7 linked regions of the Homo sapiens genome follow. The protein of the gene in region 3 purifies or fractionates together with the protein of the main gene of each other region. This does not show direct contact. Each region holds a gene or a part of one and is shown on either strand. Other genes may lie near its edges. The genes, in order: BCL7B, MPZL1, TENT4B, RCL1, NNT, DDX55 and DIAPH2.

Region 1 (2,417 bases), on a different chromosome or scaffold from region 3:
AGCCGGCTAATTTTTTGTAATTTTAGTAGAGACGGGGTTTCACCGTGTTAGCCAGGATGGTCTCGATGTCCTGACCTTGTGATCTGCCCACCTCGGCCTCCCAAAGTGCTGGGATTACAGGCGTGAGCCACCGTGCCTGGCCTCGGCCTGGTAACTCTTAAGTTTTGCACCTTGATGGTGACTTTAAGCCTTCAGGCAGAACTCCCAGGTGCTAATCCGTCAGTCCGGCAGCCGAAGCCTGAGCTCACCACCTTCAGACACCACCAGCCTCCTTCAGATGCCCAAGGATGCCTGACAAATGTCATTTTCTACACATCTTATGATGTGAGAAGGATTGAGAAGTACTGACCAGAGACACAGCTACATCCCTCCCTTCCACAAGCTGCAATCAGTGGATAATAAAGAAGAGTTTAATAAGCATATCCTGACCTTCCTAAAGTGTAATGTTGCATAAACATAAAGATTCTGGCTGCCTCTGGTGCTTAGAATCTATGTCGTGTAGGCCGGGCACAATGATTATTATACTCAGTTGTATCCTTGGCTGCCTAAAGTGATGCCAGGCCCTTGGCTCTGTCCAGAGTTCCTCTTGAGGAAAATGACCACGCTCAGCTGCTGCCTTTGTTCTGTTTGGTTTTCAGACGAAAACAGCAACCAGAGTTCCGTGTCTGACGTCTATCAGCTTAAGGTGGACAGCAGCACCAACTCAAGCCCCAGCCCCCAGCAGAGTGAGTCCCTGAGCCCAGCACACACCTCCGACTTCCGCACGGATGACTCCCAGCCCCCAACGCTGGGCCAGGAGATCCTGGAGGGTGAGTCGTGGTTGGCCGAGGATGAGTTTCCTAGAAGGGCCTTGCTTTCTGCTCTTGTTGTGTCTCGTCTTTAGAGTAACAGGCTCGAGAGAGCACCTCAGAGCCAGGCAGCACCAAGCCCTTTCTCGATAGCTTAGGAATGATTATAGTTTCCCCTTTCACAGAGGGAAGGGAGAAAACAAGCATTAGAGTTGCGTGCCAGGCTGTGTGGAAGGAACTTGAGTATTTGACGCCTGCTATAATTCTCTCAAAAATCCTGTGAGGTGGCAGCTATTGTCTTCTTTTACAGATGAGGAAAATGGACATTCAAAGCTTAGAAAGGTTAAATTGGGCTGGGCATGGTGGCTCACACCTGTAATCCCAGCACTTTGGGAGGTCGAGGTGAGCGGGTCACTTGAGGCCAGGAGTTCAAGACCAGCCTGACCAACATGGCAAAACCGTCTCTACTAAAAACATAAAAAATTTAGTTGGGCGTGGTGGCATGTGCCTGTAATCCCAGCTACTCCGGAGGCTGAGGCAGAAGAATCACTTGAACCCAAGAAGCAGAGGTTACAGTGAGCTGAGATCACACCAGTGTATTCTTGCCTGGGCAACAGAGTGAGACTCCATCTCAAAAAAAAAAGACCTGGCGCGGTGGCTCACACCTGTAATCCCAGCACTTTGGGAGGCCGAAGTGGGTGGATCACCTGAGGTCAAGAGTTAGAGACCAGCCTGACCAACATGGTGAAACCCCATCTCTACTAAAAATACAAAAATTAGCCAGGCATGGTGGCGCAAGCCTGTAATCCCAGCTACTCGGGAGGCTGAGGCAGGAGAATCACTTAAACCCAGGAGGCAGAGGTTGCAGTGAGCCAAGATCGCACCAGGGCACTCCAGCCTGGCGACAGAGCTAGACTTCATCTCAAAAAAAAACAGAGAAAGGTTAAATCGCTTGTCTGAGATCACATAGCCAGTCTAGTAACTGTTGGAATGAATGTCACTTTAAGTCCTTCTATTTTCAGCATTTATGCTGTCTGCATTACATGCTAAATTTTTTTCTTTTCTTTTTTTTTTTTTTTTTTTTTTTAAAGAGATAGGGTCTTGCTCTGTTGCCCAGGCTAGAATGCAGTGGCTGAATCCTAGCTCACTGCAGTCTTGAACTCCTGGGGTCAAGTGATCCTCTTGCCTCAGACTCCGTAGTAGTAGGACTGTAAGCCTTTGCCACCATGCCTGGCTTTCTTTTAATTTTCTGTAGAAATGGAGTCTCACTATGTTGCCCAGGCTGGTCTTGAACTCCTGGGCTTCAAGTGATCCTCCCACCTCAGCCTCCAGAGTAGCTGGGATTATAGGTGTGAGCCACCATGCCCGACCCAGGTTTCTTGTTATAATATGGATATATAGATGTGTCTTAGGCCCTTGTTACCTTCTCCTGTGCTGTGACCTGTTAACAGCCAACTACAAAATGGAACTTGTTTCTCCATGGGAAATGCCAATTGTAGTTAATATTTATTGTGTTCTTACTATTTGGCATGTGCTGTTCTTAGCTCCTGTGTTTTATTACTTCATCTCGTCCTCATAGCAACTCTCAGAAAACTGGGAGATTGAGTTAGAGTTGTGATGTTTGGGCTA
Region 2 (3,500 bases), on a different chromosome or scaffold from region 3:
GTCACTCAGGCTGGAGTGCAGTGTTGCAACCTCCGCCTCCTGGGTTCAAGCAATTCTCCTGCCTCAGCCTCCCGAGTAGCTGGGATTACAGACACCCACCACGACGCCCAGCTAATTTTTGTATTTTTAGTAGAGACGGGGTTTCACCATGTTGCCCAGGCTGGTCTCGAACTCCTGACCTCAGGTGATTCACCAGCCCCGGCCCCCCCAAAGTGCTGGGATTACAGGCGTGAGCCACCGCACCCAGCCTTCTTCAAGGATTTTCTTAAACCAGATCCCTTCCTCGAGGCCTAGCTGCAAGACTTGTCATCCCGAGACATTATTTAAAGATGGAATTAGACCAAGTGTCCAAGTTTACAGTCACAGAATTTTGAGCAAAAAGACTAACCAAATTCCCAAATGGCTTTTAGGCATCTATTTAAGACACAGATTTCATTATACCAAAGTTAGGTAATAAACAGGTGGCTTTTTAAAAAACACACAACACTCTTTGGCTAATCTGAACGTGTAGCTCTTAGCCAGGATTATGAAATCCAAAGCTAGCCCATCAGCTAGCTCAAGAAAAAGAAAATGATGCCACACACTGAGAAATTAACTTCCTCCCATCCCTGGCTATCTACACTTTTCTCTAATACTACTCTTGTCATCATTTTTGGAGATTTCATCAGTTGTAAGATAAACCTTCTAAAACCCTAGTCTGTTTATCTTCTCCAATAATCTGGGTAAGATCAGGCCTACCCCAGCCACTCATTTCTATGGTCATACCTGTTCAATCAAGTTTAGCCTAAAGCTGCCTCCTTACATATTTTAAGTTCAGCCTAAGGGTTTTTCTGTACACTGTGAACTATAACAAGTGTAGGTGTAAACAGGCCGTAGCCAATCACCTTGGGCCAAGCACCGAGTTTTGGCCAATCAAATGTAGCCAACTGTTCAAATTGTGTTCAAGTAAGGCAAATGCTGAGCTATAATCAATGCAGCTGTTTCTGTACCTCACTCCCGTTTTCTGTACATCACTTTCCTTTTTCTGTCCATAAATCTTCTTCCGCCACGTGGCTGCGCTGGCGTCTCTGAGCCTACCTTGGCTCAGAAGGCTGCCCAATTCGCAGTTCATTCTTTGTTCAGTTAAACTCCTTTAAATTTAATTCAGCTGAAGTTTTTCTTTTATACCCTAAACCAGGGCTTCTCAACCTCAGCACTACTGACAACTGCCACAGACAATCCTTTGTTGTGGGAAACTGTGCTATACCTTGTAGGATGTTGAGCAGCACCCCTGGCCTCTACTAGATGACAGCAGTATCTCCTCTGCCTCCAGTTGTGACAACCAAAAATGTCTCCAGACATTGCAAATGCCTCCTCAGAGGTGAAATCCCCCCAGTTGAGAATCACTAGCTCTAGACCCAATCATCAGTACCTGCACCCACTCCAGAATCGTAGTTTCAGGCTTCTCTACTCCCTAATTGACCACCTCTTAGCTTTCCAATATCCTCCAAAACCCTGAGTTCACTGATCCCTAAGCTGCATCAGAAACTAAAATCCCAGCATGTCTTCATTTGCCTTACTCAGACTAAACCCCATAGGCCACCATTATACTCACCCCCTTGCATACACAATCAGCTCTCTTGCCTCTCCCTTCAGGGCCTTCACCTGGAACCTCTATCCTGGTTAAATTCAATTCTCTATCCACTATGCATCTCCACCAGGGTGGCTGACCACAGCTGGACAAAAGCACACAATCCCACTGACTATTTTCGCCTTAAATGTATGGTCACTAACCTTAAAGGGACTCTTAATGCTGTCTAGCAATCCACCCACATTGCCCTAATCCATCTGCTTTCCATTTCCCTAGAGGACTAGTTTAAACCTTCCTCTCTAACCTCAAATTTCCACTTCCTCTGGTTTCTCACTCCCAGCTAATGACTGAGCTGCTTATTTCACCGAGAAAACAGAAGCAATGAGAAGAGAACCTCCCTATGTCCAGACACCATAGCTACCCACCTCCCTGCATCTGTGCCCATTCTGCTTTCCCTGCACTCCTATGTAGAAAGTGTCTGTCTGCATCCCTCTCCAGGATGAACCTCTCCACTGCACATTGCATCTCATCTCTTGCCTACCTAAGGACATTTATTGATCCAGCAATTCTCCCTCTTCTGAATTTTTCACTCACTACTGAATTACCACCAGCAGCAATATAAACATACATATTTATATTTATATCCCAGGTTTAGAGAAAAAAAACCTTGACCCTGCATCTCCCTGCAGCTCTGGCCCCTTTGTCCTCCTTTATTTTATCAATCTTGAAAGAACTGTCTGTACACACTGTGTCCAATTTCTCTCCTCTTCTGTTCTCTTGGATAAATCCAATTTAGGCTTTCATCTCCGTTACTCCATAGAAACTGTTTTTGTTAAGGAATGCAATGACCTCCATGGTTAATTCTCAAATCTTGTCTTATTGCCCTATCTAAAACCTTTGAAAGTTACTCCCTGCTAAAACCTTTTTTTTTGTTTTTTAACAGTTTGGCTTTTGGAATGCCTCTCCCTCTTGATTCTCTTATCTCATTGACTGCTCCTTCCCTGGTTCTCCTGACCTCTATATGATTAAGAGCCCAGATCATTTCTCTGACTGCGTATCTATTTAACATTCCTTCTCTTGGTGACCTCACTCAGTTTCAAATGCTGATGACACCTGTACACACACACACACACACACACACACACACACACACACACACACACAGCCTATTCAACTTTGCTTGGATGTAATTGGCATCATCTCAAATTTAATATGTCCAAATTAAACTCCTGATTCCCACCCCCCAAACTTCCTTTCCATGGTCTTCTCCAAATCAGTAAATGGTAACACCAGTTTTCTAGTGGCTGAGACCAAAACCCTGGACTGTTTTGTGACTCCTCTCTTTTGCACAACTTTCCTCCAAGCTGTCAGCTACACATGTCATCTCTACTTAGAAACCTATCTAGAGGGGCCGGGTGCGGTGGCTCACGTTTGTAATCCCAGCACTTTGGGAGGCCAAAGTGGGCGGAACACCGAGGTCAGGAGATCAAGACCATCCTGGCTAACATGGTGAAACCCCGTCTCTACTAAAAATACAAAAGAATTAGCTGGTGTGGTGGCGGGCGCCTGTAGTACCAGCTAATCGGAAGGCTGAGGCAGGAGAATGGCGTGAACCCGGGAGGCGGAGCTTGCAGTGAGCTGAGATCACACCACTACACTCTGGGCGGGGTGACAGAGCGAGACTCTGTCTCAAAAAACAAAACAAAACAAAACAAAAGAAACCTATCTAGAAATTGATCTCTCTCTGCCTCATTTGGTGTCACCATCTTGGTCCAAGCCACTGTCATCTTTCACCTGGATTAAGTATTGATAGCTTCCTAATTGGTGTCTGCCTCCTTCAGCCTTCCCCACTTCACAGCAACTAGTCCACAGAGAGGCCAAAGAGATCTCATTAAAATTCAGGTTGGATCATATCACTCTTCTACTCAAA
Region 3 (3,500 bases):
TGGGTGCTTAGAAATTCTTGCTTTGATTCATGTATTCTGATTTTTTTTTTTTTTTTGAGACGGAGTTTCGCTCTTGTTGCCCAGGCTGGAGTGCAGTGGCTCGATCTCAGCTCACCGCAACCTCTGCCTCCCAGGTTCAAGCGATTCTGCTGCCTCAGCCTCCCGAGTAGCTGGGATTACAGGCGCTTGCCACCACGCCTGGCTAATTTTTTATTTTTAGTAGAGACGGGGTTTCTTCATGTTGGTCAGGCTGGTCTCGAACTCCTGACCTCAGGTGATCTGCCCGTCTTGGCCTCCCAAAGGACTGGGATTACAGGCATGAGCCACCGTGCCCGGCCTCATTATCCTGATTTCTTTTTTTTCTTTTGAGACTGGGTCTCACTCTGCTGCCTAGGCTGGAGTGGAGTGACGTGATCATAGCTCACTGTATCCTCTAACTCTTGGGCTCAAGTGATCCTCCTGCCTTAGCTTCCTGGAGTAGCTGGGACTACAGGCACATGTCACCACACCTGCCTAATTTTTTTATTTTTACTTTTTGTAGAGATGGGGCCTCCATTTGTTGCCTAGGCTGGTCTTCAACCGGCCTCAAGCAGTCCTCCCACCTTGGCCTCACAGAGTGCTGGGATTATAGGCATGAGCCACCATTCTCGCCAGTATCCTTATTTCTTAACTTTAGAAAGTTTTTCTATTTTTAATATAGGTATTTAAAAAAATCTGAATTCAGAGTGCACCTCGATGTTATGCTGTTCTGAGATTAAATATACTAAAACTGTTACCATTGTTTTCTGAATTCTTAAGATGTGACTGATAGTTAGCTAATAGGTTAACACATTGTGGTGGTTCTTGGCCTCTGAACTGATAGTCCAGATGGGGAGAGGAGACCAGAAAGCATGTGAAAATGGACTAGAACCATGGGACAGCTATATAGTCTCTCGCAGCTGTCTTTTGTGTTCTCTGCTTCCACCAAATTGGTTGATTTATTTAGAATGCTGACCTCTTGCATTGCCTAAGTCCTTGATGTTTTTGGTTTCTCCTCTGAACTCTCAAAGGTACTCACTTCATGCTCTTGGTATAGCCCACTTATGTTTAACTTTCCTTTTATTATGTGTTCCCTCTTACACATGACATGGACATTTCTTTAATATGTAGAGTAAGATATTGGATTTCATCCTAAAGTCTTCAAAATAAAACTCTTGAGCTCATCATCTCAGACTTCTTCATGTACCCACAGACCAGGGATTTTGTTTGCTTTTTAAAACATTTTTTTATTTTGTGTTTTATTATTTTTAAATTTTAATTTAATTTTATGGAGACAGGGTCTCGCTCTGTTGCCCAGGCTGGAGTGCAGTGGTGTGATCTCGGCTCACTGCAGCCTTTGCCTGGGCTCAAGCCATCCACATGCCTTGGCCTCCCAGTGTGCTGGGATTACAGGTGTGAGCCACTGTGCCTGGCCTAAATTTATTTTTTTAATTTTTTTTGAGACAGGGTCTTGCTCTGTCGCTCAGGCTGGAGTGCAGTGTCATAATCATGGGTCACAGCAGCCTTGGCCTCCCAGGCTGAAGTGAACTTCCCACCTCAGCCTCCTGAGTAGTTGGGACTACAGGCGAGTGCCACCATGCCTGGCTCATTTTGGTTTTTTTTGTAAAGATGGGGTCTTGTCATGTTGCCCATGAAGGTCTCCAACTCCTGGTCCAAGTGATCCTCCCGCCTCCGCCTAGCAAAATGTTGGGATTACAGGTGTGAGCCACCATGCCTGGCCTTATTTATTTATTTAATTATGAATGAATGAATGAATTAATGAGAGGGAGTCTTGCTCTCTTGCCCAGGCTGGAGTGTGGTGGCACAATCTTGGCCCACTGCAACCTCCGTCTCCCAGGTTCGAGCAATTCTCCTGCCTCAGCCTCCCGAGTAACTGGGATTACAGGCGCCCGCCACCATGCCCAGGTAATTTTTGTATTTTTAGTAGAGATGGGGTCTCACCATGTTGGCCAGACTGGTTTCGAACTTCTGACCTCAAGTGATCTGCCCACCTTGGCTTCCCAAAGTGTCAGGATTACAGGCATGAGCCACCATGCCTGGCCTGGCCTTTTATGTTTTAAGTTGCTTCCACTGATTCTCTTGGGCTTTGCTCCCCTCCAGAACTGGCCATGGTTTAGGATGCTGTCCACCTGCTGCTGCTTGTCCATGAAAACGAGCCATAAACCCTTTTCTTTTGAAAGACTTAATTGTTTATCACTATGGAGAAAGAGGGGATGGCAAGAAGTAGCAAATACAGGGAATTTGCAGAACTTGGTCTTGAGCCCTGGGTCCAGAAACTTCTTCTGGAAGGTGCTTGGTGTTTGTCCAAGCTCATGATAGGTTTCTGTTGGCTGTACTGCCAGATCTGTAGATGCTTTTTTAAGGCTTGGATGACTTGTTCAAAACAATGTTTTGGAGTACAAATTTGGCTGTGGGGACATCAAGACCTTGTTGGGAAACTTGGGTTTAAGGTACAATTTCTTAAACTAGGATGGTGGGAATGGGGATGTGAAGGGAGAATGAATGTGAGAGGTATTACAGGGTAAGGATGGAGATGATTCAGATTCCTTAAGTGGATTTAATAATCACACTGTAGCTTTGAACTTGAGTGACTGGGGAAATATTTGTGGTGTTTTTGGAAATAAGGGCCAGAAGGACTATTGGTTTGGGTAAGAAGATAGTAGGGGGATGTATAGGTGGACCTGCTAGTGGGGAGCTGAGATTTGGAGGGCTGAGATGTAGTGCTCTTCACTGCCGTAGGGCAGTATCCTCTTGTATGTGCCATCCTCTAGTGCCCATTGTTCATCATGTCATAGTAAGCCCAAGATGTTCATGCCTTTTTTCAGCACTGCATTAGGGCTTATATCTGCTTCTCTTTCTCTCTCTCTCTCGCTCTCGCTCCCTCCCTCTCTCTCTCTTTCTGTTTTTTTTTTTTTTTTAGACGGAGTTTCACTTGTGTTGCCCAGGTTGGAGTGCAGTGGCGCGATCTTGGCTCATTGCAACCTCTGACTCCCGGGTTCAAGCAATTCTCCTGCCTCAGCCTCCCAAGTAGCTGGGATTACAGGCATGTGCCACCATGCCTAATTTTGTATCTTTAGTAGAGATGGGGTTTCTCCATGTTGGTCAGGCTGGTGTCAAACTCCCAACATCAGGTGATCTACCTGCCTCGGCCGCCCAAAGTGCTGGGATTACAGGCATGAGCCACCGCGCCCGGCCTCTCTCTGCTTATTTCTACACAGTGTTACCAATGAGATTGGTGTTACTGCTGGGCTCCAAAGCAATCAGACAGATTAAAGTAGATTGAATATGAAAGAATTTAGAGGCCTTTTTCCAAGTGATTTGTGCTCTATTTAATTTCTGTGCATTTGCAGATATAGCCCACAGTAATTCTTAGTGAACTAGAACCTTCAGGTTATTGAATTTTACTGATTTGGGTACTGACATGCGCTTTTAAGAAGACATTAGGTTTTCTATAGTGTAGA
Region 4 (3,500 bases), on a different chromosome or scaffold from region 3:
TGTTAGAACTAGGATATTGACATTGATACAGTGAGATACAGAACATTTCTGTCACTCCAAGGATTCTTCATGTCTGTTGCTCTTTTGTAGCCACACTCAGTTTCCTCCTTCCCCCACTTCTTCCTTAACCCTTGTCAGTCTCTAATCTGTTCTTTAATTTCTGTAATTTTGTCATTTGAAGACTGCTCCATAAATGGAATCATATAGTATGTAACCTTTGGATTGGCTTTTTTCTGTTTTCTTAAATTTTATATTATAAATTAAAAAAATTTTTAAAAAGAAAAAACTTGAAGGGCCTTGAATGAGTCCTGTATTTTTATTTTTTGTCACTACCTCCCTGGGTTGGGAGTGGGTAATTTGCATGCTTGCTACCTTCCTTGGATGTGGTAGCCATTTCTCAGACTCTGACTCTGGAATCAAACCCTGATTCCCTGTCACCCATGGTCACCGTGGTAGGCATGGTGACTATCATCAAAAGTTGATATGGCAGACGTTCATATGGGTTGTTGCTGCCACATGGGAGTGTGTGATTAGCCTGAGGTTATCTAGAGTCACTATAAGGACTGGCTTTTTTTCAGTCAGCATGATTCTCTGGAGATTTATCTAAGATGTTTTTATCAAGTTTGTTCCCTTTTGTTGCTGAGTAGTATTTCATGGTATGAAAAGATCACAAGTCTTTTTATTTACCTGTTGAAAAACATGTAGGTTGTTTCCAGTTTTTGGCTATCTCGAATAAGGCTGCTATAAAAATTTGTGGACAGGTTTTTCTTTTTTTTTTTATTTTTATTTTTTATGGTGTCTAGCTCTGTTGCCCAGGCTGGAGTGCAGTGGCACGATCTTGGCTCACTGCACCCTCCCACTCCCGGGTTCAGGCGATTCTCCCACCTCAGCTTCCCGAGTAGCTGGGATTACAGGCACCCACCACCATGCCCAGATAATTTTTGTATTTTTAGTAGAGACGGGGTTTCGGCACGTTGGCCAGGCTGGTCTCGAACTCCTGATCTTAGGTGATCCACCCACCTCAGCCTCCCAAAGTGCTGGGATTACAGGTGTGCACCACCATGCCCAGCCAGGTTTTTTTATTTTTTTATGTGAACATAGTCTTCCTTTCTCTGGAATAAATGCCCAGGAGTGCTCTTGCAGGGTTGTATGGTAGTTGCATGTTTAGTTTTTTAAGATATTGCTGCCCTGTTTTCCAGTGTGGATGTATTTTTTTTTTTTTTTTTTGAGATGGAATCTCGCTCTGACTTCCAGGCTGGAATGCAGTGATGTGATCTTGGCTCACTGCAACCTCCGCCTCCCAGGTTCAAGTGATTCTCCTGCCTCAGCCTCCAGAGCAGCTGGGATTACAGGTGTGCACCACCACACCTGGCTAATTTTTTATATTTTTGGTAGAGACGGGGTTTCACTGTGTTGGCCAGGCTGGTCTCCAACTCCTGACCTCAAGTAATCCTCCTGGCTCGGCCTCCCAGAGTGCTGGGATTACAGGCGTGAGCCACCACACTGGCCTGGATGTACCATTTTATATTCCTATCTGTAGTGTATGAGGGATTCAGTTTCTCTGCATCCTTTCTAGCATTTGGTGTTGTCACTACTTTTATTCTGATAGGTATGTAGTGATGCCCCAGGGTGGTCTTAATTTGCGTATTACAAATGACTAATGATGTCTTAAGTGAAACATCTTTCCAAGTCTTTTGTCCATTTCTAATAGGATTGTTTGTATTAACTGTTTTGTTTTGTTTTTTTGAGATAGGGTCTTGCTTTTTCATCCAGGCTTGAGTACAGTGACACGATCATGGCTCACTACTGCCTCAGCTTCCTGGGCGTAAGCAAATCTTTCATCTCAGCCTCCCGAGTAGCTGGGACTACAGGCACATACCATCATGCCCGGCTAATATTTTAACTTTTTGTAGAGATGGAGTCTCGCTATGTTGTCCAGGCTGGTCTTGAATTTGTGGCCTCAAGCCATCTTTCTGCCTCACCTTTCCAAGGTGTAATTCCTAAGGTATTACAGGTGTGAACCACGGTGCCTGGCCTCTACTGTTGCTTTTGAGACTACTTTATATATGCTAGTCTTTTGGCAGATTTGTAGTTTGTTAATATTTTCTCCCACTGTGCACCTTGTCTTCTTATTATCTTAATATGGTTTCCAGAGGAAAATATTTTAATTTTAATGATGTAGAATTTATGATTTTTTTCTTTTGTGGCAGTGCTTTTAGTGTTAAGTCTAAGAACTCTTTGCCTAGCTTTAGGTGCGAGACTTGGGTTGCGATTCTTTTTTTTTTTTTTTTTTGCCTATGGAAAGCCAATTGCCCAAGCATCATTTGTTGAAACGGCATCTTTTTTCCATTTAATTGCTTTTGTGCCTTTGTACAAAATCAGTTCAGCATTTTTGTGTGGATCTCTTTCTGGGTTCTCCATTCTGTTCCATTGATTTATATGTCTGTCTCTTGCCAACACGACACAGTCTTTTTTTCTTTTTTTTTGAGACGGAATCTCGCTCTGTTGCCGCTGGAGTGCGGTGGTGCAATCTTGGCTCACTGCAGCCTCCGCCTGCCAGGTTCCAGCGATTCTCCTGTCTCAGTCTCCCGAGCATCTGGGATTATAGGTGTGTGCCACCACGCCTGGCTATTTTTTTTTTTTTTTTTTTTTTTGTATTTTTGTAGAGGCGGGGTTTCACCATGTTGGCCAGGCTGGTCTCGAACTTCTGAGCCCAAGTAATCCACCCGCCTTGGGCTCTCAAAGTGCTGGGATTATAGGTGTGAGCCACAGCTCCTGGCCAGTATATCACACAGTCTTGATTACTTACTGTAGCTGTCTAATGAGTCTTGAAGTTGGTTAGACTGATTCCTCCCAGTTTGTTTTTCAAAATCATTTTAGTTATTCTAGTTCCTTTGCCTTTCAATATAAATTTTAGAATAATCTTGTCTAATATACAAAAAAGCTTTCCAATATTTTGACAAGAATTATATTACACCCATATGTCCATTTGGGGATAATTGTCGTCTTTATTATGTTGAGGTTTTAATCCATGAACATGATCTGTCTCTCTACTTACTTAAATCTGTTTCTTTTCCCCAGATGAAATATTATAGGTTTATTTAAAACATAATTCTCATCCTGAGATGAGAAATGTTCATTTGTTCACAAAATGTTCATTTTTCAATGTTTACAAAATGTTCATTTTTTTTTACTTTGTTATTTACAAATATACGGAAGTAGTTTACTTAAATTTTTATTACATATTTATTAAGGCAGGTAACTACATAGAAAAAAATTTTATTCTGTCTTAAGCATACTTGGGAATAAACCATTTGACAAATTATTGCACATCTGAAACCACAGTGCATAACAAACTACAAAAAATGGTAAGTTTTGTTTTGTTTTGTTTTTTTAAGACAGGGTCTTGCTCTGTCGCACAGGCTGGGGTGCAGAGGTGCGACCTTAGCCTACTGCAACCTTGAATTCCTGGGCTCAAGCAATCCTCTTGCCTCAGCCTC
Region 5 (3,717 bases), on a different chromosome or scaffold from region 3:
AGCAATGTTTGTTTGCCTAACATGTCCTAGGTTGGTCTGTTAAATACACTCTCTCATTTAATCTCTGGTTCTCAGGTGATTGTTATGAAGAGGTCTTTGGGTGTTGGCTATGCTGCAGTGGACAATCCAATCTTCTACAAACCTAACACGGCCATGCTTCTAGGTGATGCCAAGAAAACATGTGACGCGCTCCAGGCGAAAGTTAGAGAATCCTATCAGAAGTAAATATTAAGGATCAAGCTGTTAGCTAATAATGCCACCTCTGCAGTTTTGGGAACAGGCAAATAAAGTATCAGTATACATGGTGATGTACATCTGTAGCAAAGCTCTTGGAGAAAATGAAGACTGAAGAAAGCAAAGCAAAAACTGTATAGAGAGATTTTTCAAAAGCAGTAATCCCTCAATTTTAAAAAAGGATTGAAAATTCTAAATGTCTTTCTGTGCATATTTTTTGTGTTAGGAATCAAAAGTATTTTATAAAAGGAGAAAGAACAGCCTCATTTTAGATGTAGTCCTGTTGGATTTTTTATGCCTCCTCAGTAACCAGAAATGTTTTAAAAAACTAAGTGTTTAGGATTTCAAGACAACATTATACATGGCTCTGAAATATCTGACACAATGTAAACATTGCAGGCACCTGCATTTTATGTTTTTTTTTTCAACAAATGTGACTAATTTGAAACTTTTATGAACTTCTGAGCTGTCCCCTTGCAATTCAACCGCAGTTTGAATTAATCATATCAAATCAGTTTTAATTTTTTAAATTGTACTTCAGAGTCTATATTTCAAGGGCACATTTTCTCACTACTATTTTAATACATTAAAGGACTAAATAATCTTTCAGAGATGCTGGAAACAAATCATTTGCTTTATATGTTTCATTAGAATACCAATGAAACATACAACTTGAAAATTAGTAATAGTATTTTTGAAGATCCCATTTCTAATTGGAGATCTCTTTAATTTCGATCAACTTATAATGTGTAGTACTATATTAAGTGCACTTGAGTGGAATTCAACATTTGACTAATAAAATGAGTTCATCATGTTGGCAAGTGATGTGGCAATTATCTCTGGTGACAAAAGAGTAAAATCAAATATTTCTGCCTGTTACAAATATCAAGGAAGACCTGCTACTATGAAATAGATGACATTAATCTGTCTTCACTGTTTATAATACGGATGGATTTTTTTTCAAATCAGTGTGTGTTTTGAGGTCTTATGTAATTGATGACATTTGAGAGAAATGGTGGCTTTTTTTAGCTACCTCTTTGTTCATTTAAGCACCAGTAAAGATCATGTCTTTTTATAGAAGTGTAGATTTTCTTTGTGACTTTGCTATCGTGCCTAAAGCTCTAAATATAGGTGAATGTGTGATGAATACTCAGATTATTTGTCTCTCTATATAATTAGTTTGGTACTAAGTTTCTCAAAAAATTATTAACACATGAAAGACAATCTCTAAACCAGAAAAAGAAGTAGTACAAATTTTGTTACTGTAATGCTCGCGTTTAGTGAGTTTAAAACACACAGTATCTTTTGGTTTTATAATCAGTTTCTATTTTGCTGTGCCTGAGATTAAGATCTGTGTATGTGTGTGTGTGTGTGTGTGCGTTTGTGTGTTAAAGCAGAAAAGACTTTTTTAAAAGTTTTAAGTGATAAATGCAATTTGTTAATTGATCTTAGATCACTAGTAAACTCAGGGCTGAATTATACCATGTATATTCTATTAGAAGAAAGTAAACACCATCTTTATTCCTGCCCTTTTTCTTCTCTCAAAGTAGTTGTAGTTATATCTAGAAAGAAGCAATTTTGATTTCTTGAAAAGGTAGTTCCTGCACTCAGTTTAAACTAAAAATAATCATACTTGGATTTTATTTATTTTTGTCATAGTAAAAATTTTAATTTATATATATTTTTATTTAGTATTATCTTATTCTTTGCTATTTGCCAATCCTTTGTCATCAATTGTGTTAAATGAATTGAAAATTCATGCCCTGTTCATTTTATTTTACTTTATTGGTTAGGATATTTAAAGGATTTTTGTATATATAATTTCTTAAATTAATATTCCAAAAGGTTAGTGGACTTAGATTATAAATTATGGCAAAAATCTAAAAACAACAAAAATGATTTTTATACATTCTATTTCATTATTCCTCTTTTTCCAATAAGTCATACAATTGGTAGATATGACTTATTTTATTTTTGTATTATTCACTATATCTTTATGATATTTAAGTATAAATAATTAAAAAAATTTATTGTACCTTATAGTCTGTCACCAAAAAAAAAAAATTATCTGTAGGTAGTGAAATGCTAATGTTGATTTGTCTTTAAGGGCTTGTTAACTATCCTTTATTTTCTCATTTGTCTTAAATTAGGAGTTTGTGTTTAAATTACTCATCTAAGCAAAAAATGTATATAAATCCCATTACTGGGTATATACCCAAAGGATTATAAATCATGCTGCTATAAAGACACATGCACACGTATGTTTATTGCAGCACTATTCACAATAGCAAAGACTTGGAACCAACCCAAATGTCCATCAATGATAGACTTGATTAAGAAAATGTGCACATATACACCATGGAATACTATGCAGCCATAAAAAAGGATGAGTTCATGTCCTTTGTAGGGACATGGATAAAGCTGGAAACCATCATTCTGAGCAAACTATTGCAAGGACAGAAAACCAAACACTGCATGTTCTCACTCATAGGTGGGAATTGAACAATGAGAACACTTGGACACAAGGTGGGGAACACCACACACCAGGGCCTGTCATGGGGTGGGGGGAGTGGGGAGGGATAGCATTAGGAGATATACCTAATGTAAATGATGAGTTAATGGGTGCAGCACACCAACATGGCACATGTATACATATGTAGCAAACCTGCACGTTGTGCACATGTACCCTAGAACTTAAAGTATAATTAAAAAAAAAAAGAAAACAGAAGCTATTTATAAAGAAGTTATTTGCTGAAATAAATGTGATCTTTCCCATTAAAAAAATAAAGAAATTTTGGGGTAAAAAAACACAATATATTGTATTCTTGAAAAATTCTAAGAGAGTGGATGTGAAGTGTTCTCACCACAAAAGTGATAACTAATTGAGGTAATGCACATATTAATTAGAAAGATTTTGTCATTCCACAATGTATATATACTTAAAAATATGTTATACACAATAAATACATACATTAAAAAATAAGTAAATGTATAAGTTTTTACACATTATATATATGTTTATATTGCTACTCATGTATCTATCTGGACAGTTTTCTGGCATGTAGACTATCATTTTATATTCTCTTTTTTTTCTAGGAATTAGAATAGAGAGGACTAATAGAGACTAATAGTCTCTTCGTGCAGTAGGCTTTTAACCCTTTACTGAGTCAGGAAATATCAGTTAAGTATTTGGTAATGAATTTGGAAAGTGAACCGTTGCCTTTCTGATTCTACCCAAGTCATGACCCTAACTTTTAGATTTTGCTATATTCTCGCATCCAACATAAATATAAAATATATTATATATCAGTAAACTTTAAGGTTTCATAAAATTTATCTGATCCCAAAGGTTGATTCTTTAAAAGTAGTAACTTGTGACTCATATGTTCATCTAACCTAGGGACAAATTTTTTAGTCCCCTAAGGCATAAGTCTTGTGAATTAAAGCATTTTAGTATTGGAAAGCTCTTTTGTGTAACTAGGC
Region 6 (3,500 bases), on a different chromosome or scaffold from region 3:
CCCAGATTGCCCTGTGCCCGGTCCAGGGAAAGGTTGTGATGACTGTCAAGCAGCAAGGAGCAAATCCATTTGTCCTGTCTGGGTAGAAACTGTCTGTGGCTTAAGGCCGGACACGGTGGCTCACGCCTGTAATCCCAGCACTTTGGGAGGCCGAGGCGGGTGGATCACGAGGTCAGGAGATCAAGACCATCCTGGCTAACGTGGTGAAACCCTGTCTCTACTAAAAACAAAAAATTAGTCGGGCATGGTGGCTGGCGCCTGTAGTCCCAGCTACTCCAGAGGCTGAGGCAGGAGAATGGTGTGAACCCAGGAGGCGGAGCTTGCAGTGAGCCGAGACTGCGCCAGTGCACTCCAGCCTGGGTGACAGAGTGAGACTCCATCTCAAAAACAAACAAACAAAGAAACAAAAAAACAAAAAACTGTCTGTGGCTTATTAGGCTTGTGACTATACAGCAGGCAACTTGTGTCTACCAATGACCATAACTTGTATCTGCTTGTGCTGACAAATAATAGTTTTCTGTTTTTCTTAATCATTGAACATCTGACTATATTAAAAGTCTTCTTTTGGACAAAGTGATATACCTGACTGCTAGGCCTCAGTTATGGAGTGAATTGTCCGTTGTTTTTCAGATGGCTACAAAGGATTAGACCCATACAGTTTTGGTTTTCAAATGGCAGTGCTGTAATTTTTAAAATCCCTTTGCTGTCTCTCACCTCCCTCCAATTTTTATTGGAATTTATGAAGTCCCAGAGATTTGTAGAAAGAAGAAAAAATCAAAATATTACCTTAAACATTTGCTTCTGTGAGAAGCTCCAGCACCTGTGTGTCACTGTCATCGAGATCAGTAGGCTGTTTGATGGTGATGAAGATGGTGGCCTCCTTACTCAGAATGCTTTTTTCTCATTTCCTAGTGGGATTTTAGTGTGCACTGATGTGATGGCCCGGGGAATTGATATTCCTGAAGTCAACTGGGTTTTGCAGTATGACCCTCCCAGCAATGCAAGGTATGGTACGAGGCTGCCACCCACTCTCTGTTGAGGAATTTAGCCTAATAAAGGAGGAATCCCGAAGAAGATAAACAGATAATGATGTTCACTGAAACATTTTATAGCAAGCCTCCAGCGTGCTTGGGTCTGCAGTGACCCCGTGGATTCCTACAGGGCTTGCCAGAACAGTTTTGAAATGGTTTGAGGCCTTGCCGTGCTCCATGTAGAGCAAGGTTATAGAAATTTCAGACAATGAGAGAAAACAAAAAACAACAACATTATTTGAGGCTGGGCGCGGTGGCTCACGCCTGTAATTCCAGCACTTTGGGGAGGCCGAGGCAGGTGAATCGTTTGAGCCCAGGAATTCACCAGCTTGGGCAACAGGACAAAACCCTGTCTCTACAAAAAATATATATACAGATTAGCCAGGCGTGTGTTCCTGTAGTCCCAGCTACTTGAGAGGCTGAGGCAGGAGAATCGCTTGAGCGCAGGAGGCAGAGGTGGCAATGGATTGTGCCACTTCACTCCAGCCTGGGCAACAGTGTGAGACTCTGTCTCAAAACAAAAACCCGTTGTTTTAAGTAGCAAAAATAGGCAAATGGATGAATAACCCATTCATGGTGAAATCGTGATACTGTATTGGTAGCAATTAAAAGTACTTTCAAATATTATCAGTTCTTGCAGAAACACACAATAGAATGTCTAAATGAAAAAAGCAATACATACCACCACATGTGAAAATTACAATTACTTTCTTCAAAGTCAGCATATATTCCTAATACATGCTTCCACGCATAGGAAAATGCCTATAAACCCCCAAGTGTTGATGATTACTCCTGAGGTTATTGGTCATTTTCATTTTATTCTTTGTATTTTTCATTGTTTCCCAGATTTTCCACTGGGGACTATGTCCCACCTGTATGATCAGAGAGAAAGATACAAGTTTTACTTAAGAGTTCACATTAAATGTTTCTTACAGAATCGTATCTGTTTGCAGTGTTGGTTTAATTGCCAGTTCTATTTCTCACACTAGTAAGTGGCCGAGTCCACACTGAGCTGTGGAGGCTAGAGGCTCCCCAGAGCGTTTTAGCTGCAGCAGCCATGTGGCTGGAGCCTGAGCTCTGTTCAGCTGTCATCACCTGGGTACCCATTTCCACCCTGTGTTCTCACAGTGCCTTCGTGCATCGCTGCGGTCGCACAGCTCGCATTGGCCACGGGGGCAGCGCTCTGGTGTTCCTCCTGCCCATGGAAGAGTCATACATCAATTTCCTTGCAATTAACCAAAAAGTAAGCTGCCGTCCGTTTTCAGATAGAATGCCTAGTGACGGGGTAGCTGGAAAAGTTCTCCAGCATGTGGTCAGCAATTGAAATTACGAATTGCAAACTCACTGGGGCTGGGCTGGTGGTGGCAGTGGGGGGCCCTGGTGGGGTTTTTTTTTTTTTTTTTTGAGACGGAGTTTCACTCTTGTTGCCCAGGCTGGAGTGCAATGGCACTATCTCGGTTCACCGCAACCTCCACCTCCCGGGTTCAATGGATTCTCCTGCCTCAGCCTCCCAAGTAGCTGGGATTACAGGCATGCGCCACCCCAGCTAATTTTGTATTTTTAGTAGAGATGGGGTTTCTCCATGTTGGTCAGGCTGGTCTTGAACTCCCGACCTCAGGTGATCCGCCCACCTCGGCCTCCCAAAGTGCTGGGATGACAGGCGTGAGCCACCGTGCCCGGCCACCCTGGTGGGCTTTAAGGCTGTGGAGGCACCTCGGTCATGGAGTGACCAAGTCTCCTGTGTGGTAGCATGCCCTGCTGGGACCCAGGCAAGGGTTACTTCTTGTGAATAGAGACCCAGTGTTGCCATACTTTGCTACCAGATTAGGATTGTCATGTGAAATCTGATTTTTAAATTTTCTTTTAAAAATTTAACATACTTTACAGAGCATGTGAAATATTTGGGTTGGAGTTGGGCTTCAGACCTCAACAGTTGAAAAGGAATTGTTTCGCTTTTGTTTTTCTTGGTTGTGATGGGGAGCCCTGGGGATATGATGCCAGCCAGGGAAGGTGAGAATGTGGTATGTGTGTGTGTGTAGTGCCCCCTGCAGGAGATGAAGCCCCAGAGAAACACAGCGGACCTTCTGCCAAAACTCAAGTCCATGGCCCTGGCTGACAGAGCTGTGTTTGAAAAGGGCATGAAAGCTTTTGTGTCATATGTCCAAGCTTATGCAAAGCATGAATGCAACCTGATTTTCAGATTAAAGGGTAAGTTGGACTTCTTCATGTGATAATGTCTCCATCTTAACTATGTGGTGGTCTTACAAGTATGAGATTGCTTTGTCTCATAAAAGGAAGTGTTCCCAGGTTTTGAGTAGACACAGAATAAACTGGCCACTGGCTGCTGAGTATTCCTTTTAACTTTGTAAAAATGTAATTTTTTTAATTTTTGAGACAGAGTCGCGCTTTGTCACCCAGCCTGGAGCGCAGTGGCGCGATCTCGGCTCACTGTAAGCTCTGCCTCCCAGG
Region 7 (3,500 bases), on a different chromosome or scaffold from region 3:
GAACATGCTTGGAACTTTGTAGACACTCGACAAATATTTGTTGACTGAATAAATAGAATAAATGCAAAGGTGAAAGAAATGGGTCATCAAATAATTATGCCAGTATTTCAAGTCTGAAGAATTAAAAGGGTAGTGATGTTATTAATAAAGTATCAAAGAGTGGAAGATAAGTTGACTTAGGGGTATGGAGACAGAGGAAGATGAATTCAGCTTGTGAATTCATGCTTAAGTATGTCATGCTGGTGAAACAACCAAGGCAGTGCTGTGTAATGGGCAATCTAAAATGTGGAGAAGTCTAGGATTGAGGCAAAGATCACTGAGTCATCCTCATAGAGTCAATACTTGAAGCAGTGGGAATTGAAAAAATAATGACAAGCAATATTGAGACAGAATTATCAGATTTGAAAATTAAAATTTTATTTTGGATATTTAATGTTTTAAAATTACTAACTTACTTATACATCTAATTTTTTGTTTATTTCTCAGCTGGGTTAACAACTTTGGCCATGAAGGTCTTGGACTCTTATTGGATGAGCTGGAAAAGCTTCTGGACAAAAAACAGTAAGAATAAACACTGAAATTAAAATCACCAAAGGGAAAATGTTTCAGCACAACATAATATACATTTTTCTTTTATTTAGGCAAGAAAATATTGACAAGAAGAATCAGTATAAACTTATTCAATGCCTCAAAGCATTTATGAATAATAAGGTAAGTAGTATTTATTTCTGCCCCTGTCACAAAAGGTGGGAACTTGCCCAACACTATGAAAGTATGAAATGAACAAAATATTTTTTTATTATTTTTTTTAATTTCCAGGGTACATGTATATAGGCGAACATGTGCCATGGTGGTTTGATGCACAAATCGACCCATCAACCTAAATAATAAACCCGGCATGCATTAACTCTTTTCCCTCATCATCTTCCCCACCCCGTACCTATTTTTTACTTATGTTTCTGCTGTACTAATTAATTGTAGACTAGTTATTACAGGCTTATAAATAATAAGTGTTTATAAAGTTTTACAGTGAGGTTAAATACACATTTGAAACCATATATAAAAGATAAATTTGATGTTTAATTTTCCAAAATGTGAGCTATTGTTAGTTTTCTCGATTTTTTTTTTTTTATTTCTATGCTGATATTTCATTTTAACCAAAGAAGTCCTCACAGCATCCAGAGGATTTCAGGGATGATATAACTTCTGTAGATCTAAATCTTTTAAAAAATGGAGCCCTATTCCAATGTTTCTTCTATTCAAATATATTGCTTTCATATAGGGAAGATAGATAAAACAGTACTTTCCATTGTCTATGCTGCTAATTTCCTCAGGAGGGTGAGCTAGTCAATGAAACAAACAAAAAAAATGATTGGAAAAAGTGTATTTGACTCTTGTCTATAATTTAGAAATGCTGTGTCTGATTCTTATTCTGTTTATTCCTCCAATAATTTCTTTCATGTGAACAGAGGTCTTTTTGATTTTATAGTATACTAAATGTTCAGAAAACATAACAAAAAGAAAGAAATGAACAAAATAGTGAGTGCTTGTTCAGTTTACAAAAGGGTCTTTATGATGTAAATCCTTATAATATTTAAGTAATACTTACATGAAAGTTATACTTTGCTTCACAAAATATTTATTGGTGGGTTTTTGAAATCATGCAAATGAATTAGTGTTGTTCCCAATTTTGGTAATAATGCTTTTTCTTTAATGGTAGTAGGAAAATTTAAATGTCGTTTGTTGAATATGTTTCCACACAGAGAATTTCTGTTCTATTGAAAAGGAAAATTATAGGGATGGGTTGACTTATTTGCTAAGAACATTGTAAGATTGAGATTTCTCTTTCTTTTATGTTTTATTAATGTCAGCAAGTTTACATACATATAAGACATCTCTGAAAAATTGCAGGGCTTTTTATGTATATGTATAATACTAGTTGTATTATAAGGGACCCTGTGAATTTTAGACAATAATTTTTCTTCTAAAAATAGACTTTACTCAGGTTATGAAGTTACAGTATTTTTTCTATAAACTATTTTTTTTACTGTCTTAGAAATGACCTCTTCATACCTATAGATAAAATACTATTGACTAATTCACTTAATTACCTAATTCCCTTTACATAGTATTTTAATAATCTCAAAATAGATAATAGAAATAATTACAACAACAAGTAGAAGTTTGCCAAATGTAAAATATGGCTATTAATAACCAATGCAATAAGATTATATATTAATCTATAGACAGTCTCAAGCATATGGAAATACATATAAGTATTTATATATTATACATACATGTATCAGCAAAGAATGTTACTGTATGAGCATATGCAATGAATGCTTGCTAGTGGACATGAGACTCCTGAATATGCTAGTTGTACTGTTTCTGGAAGTTTCTTACAGAAATATTCCCATCACTACTAGTACAGATTTTCTCAAAATCTGGGCTCTTAGTCTTTGGCTACAAAGTTAAACAGAATCTGATGCCCAACAAGGAAATAATGAGCATTGCTTCTTCACAGCTCAAGATAGATCTCTTTCGTCAATTGAGGGAAACAATGACATAATGGAAAGATAACACAGTTCTAGAATTCAGGAGATATATATAGTTCATGCTTTGTTCCTAATAAGTTGTGTGGCCTTTGGAAAATTACTTGACCTCTCTGAGTATCAGTCCCCTCATCTGTAAATTTAGCTATAGGACACTTTGTTCTAAATTCTTATTGACTCATGTTGTCAATTGTCGTGGCTTTTCAGGATGCTAAGTAATTTTAATCAGGACAGTCACTAGAGAGAGTCATAATAGTAAGATTCTTATAGAGCCCTTTTTTTTTTTAACAGAACATACTTTGATTTGTCAACATTTAGTTTCTTAAGAGTTTGGCAGTTTCGGAAAGCATAATGATTTGACTTAGATTATTCGAAATTGATGTTTTTAGTTAGGCCACGTTAATGTCTTGCACATAGGTGCTCAGAGCATGGATTAATGGATCTTTTGAATTATAGACATGTGAAACAATAGGCATAAAATATGCCTTCAGAATAGAAAATATGCAGTGATCTTTTCACTTCATGTTGGAATAAATTGTCCAGATCAAGGAATTAAGCTTTTATCCAAAATGACTTACACATCAAATTTTTTGGCCCCATGGAGTTTAGATTACCTACTTCAAAAACTCCTTTCTTTTATCCAATACATGTAACAATAGGATCATAAAAAGCAACCCATTGTTTCTTAACTTCCAGTACTATAATATTGCTCTGATGTTTGGATTAATGATTTTCCAGATATATTTTTCATGTCTTCTTTTTTATTTTTGATGTGTCTCTATATATTAAAAACTACTTATAAACATTAAGTAAAATTTTTAAAACCTAATGATTTCACTCTCAGTCTCAATGACTCATAAAGCTATTAAGTTTGGTAATTGCGTGGTCATTGTCTCTCAGTTTTGCAAATGTGTTTTTCACTAATATTCATTACTTTTAATCATCTAC

Evidence for each region.
Region 1: the proteins of TENT4B (region 3) and BCL7B purify together in Homo sapiens (affinity purification with mass spectrometry, with the first as the bait; one large-scale study listed by BioGRID). This does not show direct contact.
Region 2: the proteins of TENT4B (region 3) and MPZL1 purify together in Homo sapiens (affinity purification with mass spectrometry, with the first as the bait; one large-scale study listed by BioGRID). This does not show direct contact.
Region 4: the proteins of TENT4B (region 3) and RCL1 purify together in Homo sapiens (affinity purification with mass spectrometry, with the first as the bait; one large-scale study listed by BioGRID). This does not show direct contact.
Region 5: the proteins of TENT4B (region 3) and NNT purify together in Homo sapiens (affinity purification with mass spectrometry, with the first as the bait; one large-scale study listed by BioGRID). This does not show direct contact.
Region 6: the proteins of TENT4B (region 3) and DDX55 purify together in Homo sapiens (co-immunoprecipitation; one large-scale study listed by IntAct). This does not show direct contact.
Region 7: the proteins of TENT4B (region 3) and DIAPH2 purify together in Homo sapiens (affinity purification with mass spectrometry, with the first as the bait; one large-scale study listed by BioGRID). This does not show direct contact.

The regions. Positions count from the first base shown.
Region 1 is NC_000007.14:73,538,274-73,540,690, reverse strand, and holds part of BCL7B (B-cell CLL/lymphoma 7 protein family member B), read left to right. Parts: intron 1-638; coding exon 639-809; intron 810-2,417. UniProt on the Homo sapiens protein: Positive regulator of apoptosis. Plays a role in the Wnt signaling pathway, negatively regulating the expression of Wnt signaling components CTNNB1 and HMGA1.
Region 2 is NC_000001.11:167,759,982-167,763,481, reverse strand, and holds part of MPZL1 (myelin protein zero-like protein 1 isoform a precursor), read right to left. Parts: intron 1-3,500. UniProt on the Homo sapiens protein: Cell surface receptor, which is involved in signal transduction processes. Recruits PTPN11/SHP-2 to the cell membrane and is a putative substrate of PTPN11/SHP-2.
Region 3 is NC_000016.10:50,156,306-50,159,805, forward strand, and holds part of TENT4B (terminal nucleotidyltransferase 4B), read left to right. Parts: intron 1-3,500. UniProt on the Homo sapiens protein: Terminal nucleotidyltransferase that catalyzes preferentially the transfer of ATP and GTP on RNA 3' poly(A) tail creating a heterogeneous 3' poly(A) tail leading to mRNAs stabilization by protecting mRNAs from active deadenylation.
Region 4 is NC_000009.12:4,799,444-4,802,943, forward strand, and holds part of RCL1 (RNA 3'-terminal phosphate cyclase-like protein), read left to right. Parts: intron 1-3,500. UniProt on the Homo sapiens protein: As part of the small subunit (SSU) processome, it plays a role in 40S-ribosomal-subunit biogenesis in the early pre-rRNA processing steps at sites A0, A1 and A2 that are required for proper maturation of the 18S RNA.
Region 5 is NC_000005.10:43,704,180-43,707,896, forward strand, and holds the end of NNT (NAD(P) transhydrogenase, mitochondrial), read left to right. Parts: intron 1-75; coding exon 76-225; 3' UTR 226-3,217; downstream 3,218-3,717. UniProt on the Homo sapiens protein: The transhydrogenation between NADH and NADP is coupled to respiration and ATP hydrolysis and functions as a proton pump across the membrane. May play a role in reactive oxygen species (ROS) detoxification in the adrenal gland.
Region 6 is NC_000012.12:123,615,599-123,619,098, forward strand, and holds part of DDX55 (ATP-dependent RNA helicase DDX55), read left to right. Parts: intron 1-786; exon of another isoform or gene 787-912; coding exon 913-1,005; exon of another isoform or gene 1,006-1,049; intron 1,050-1,111; exon of another isoform or gene 1,112-1,242; intron 1,243-1,713; exon of another isoform or gene 1,714-2,159; coding exon 2,160-2,274; intron 2,275-2,998; coding exon of another isoform or gene 2,999-3,070; coding exon 3,071-3,239; intron 3,240-3,500. UniProt on the Homo sapiens protein: Probable ATP-binding RNA helicase. Has ATPase activity and is involved in the maturation of precursor large subunit rRNAs.
Region 7 is NC_000023.11:96,911,842-96,915,341, forward strand, and holds part of DIAPH2 (protein diaphanous homolog 2), read left to right. Parts: intron 1-486; coding exon 487-561; intron 562-641; coding exon 642-711; intron 712-3,500. UniProt on the Homo sapiens protein: Could be involved in oogenesis. Involved in the regulation of endosome dynamics.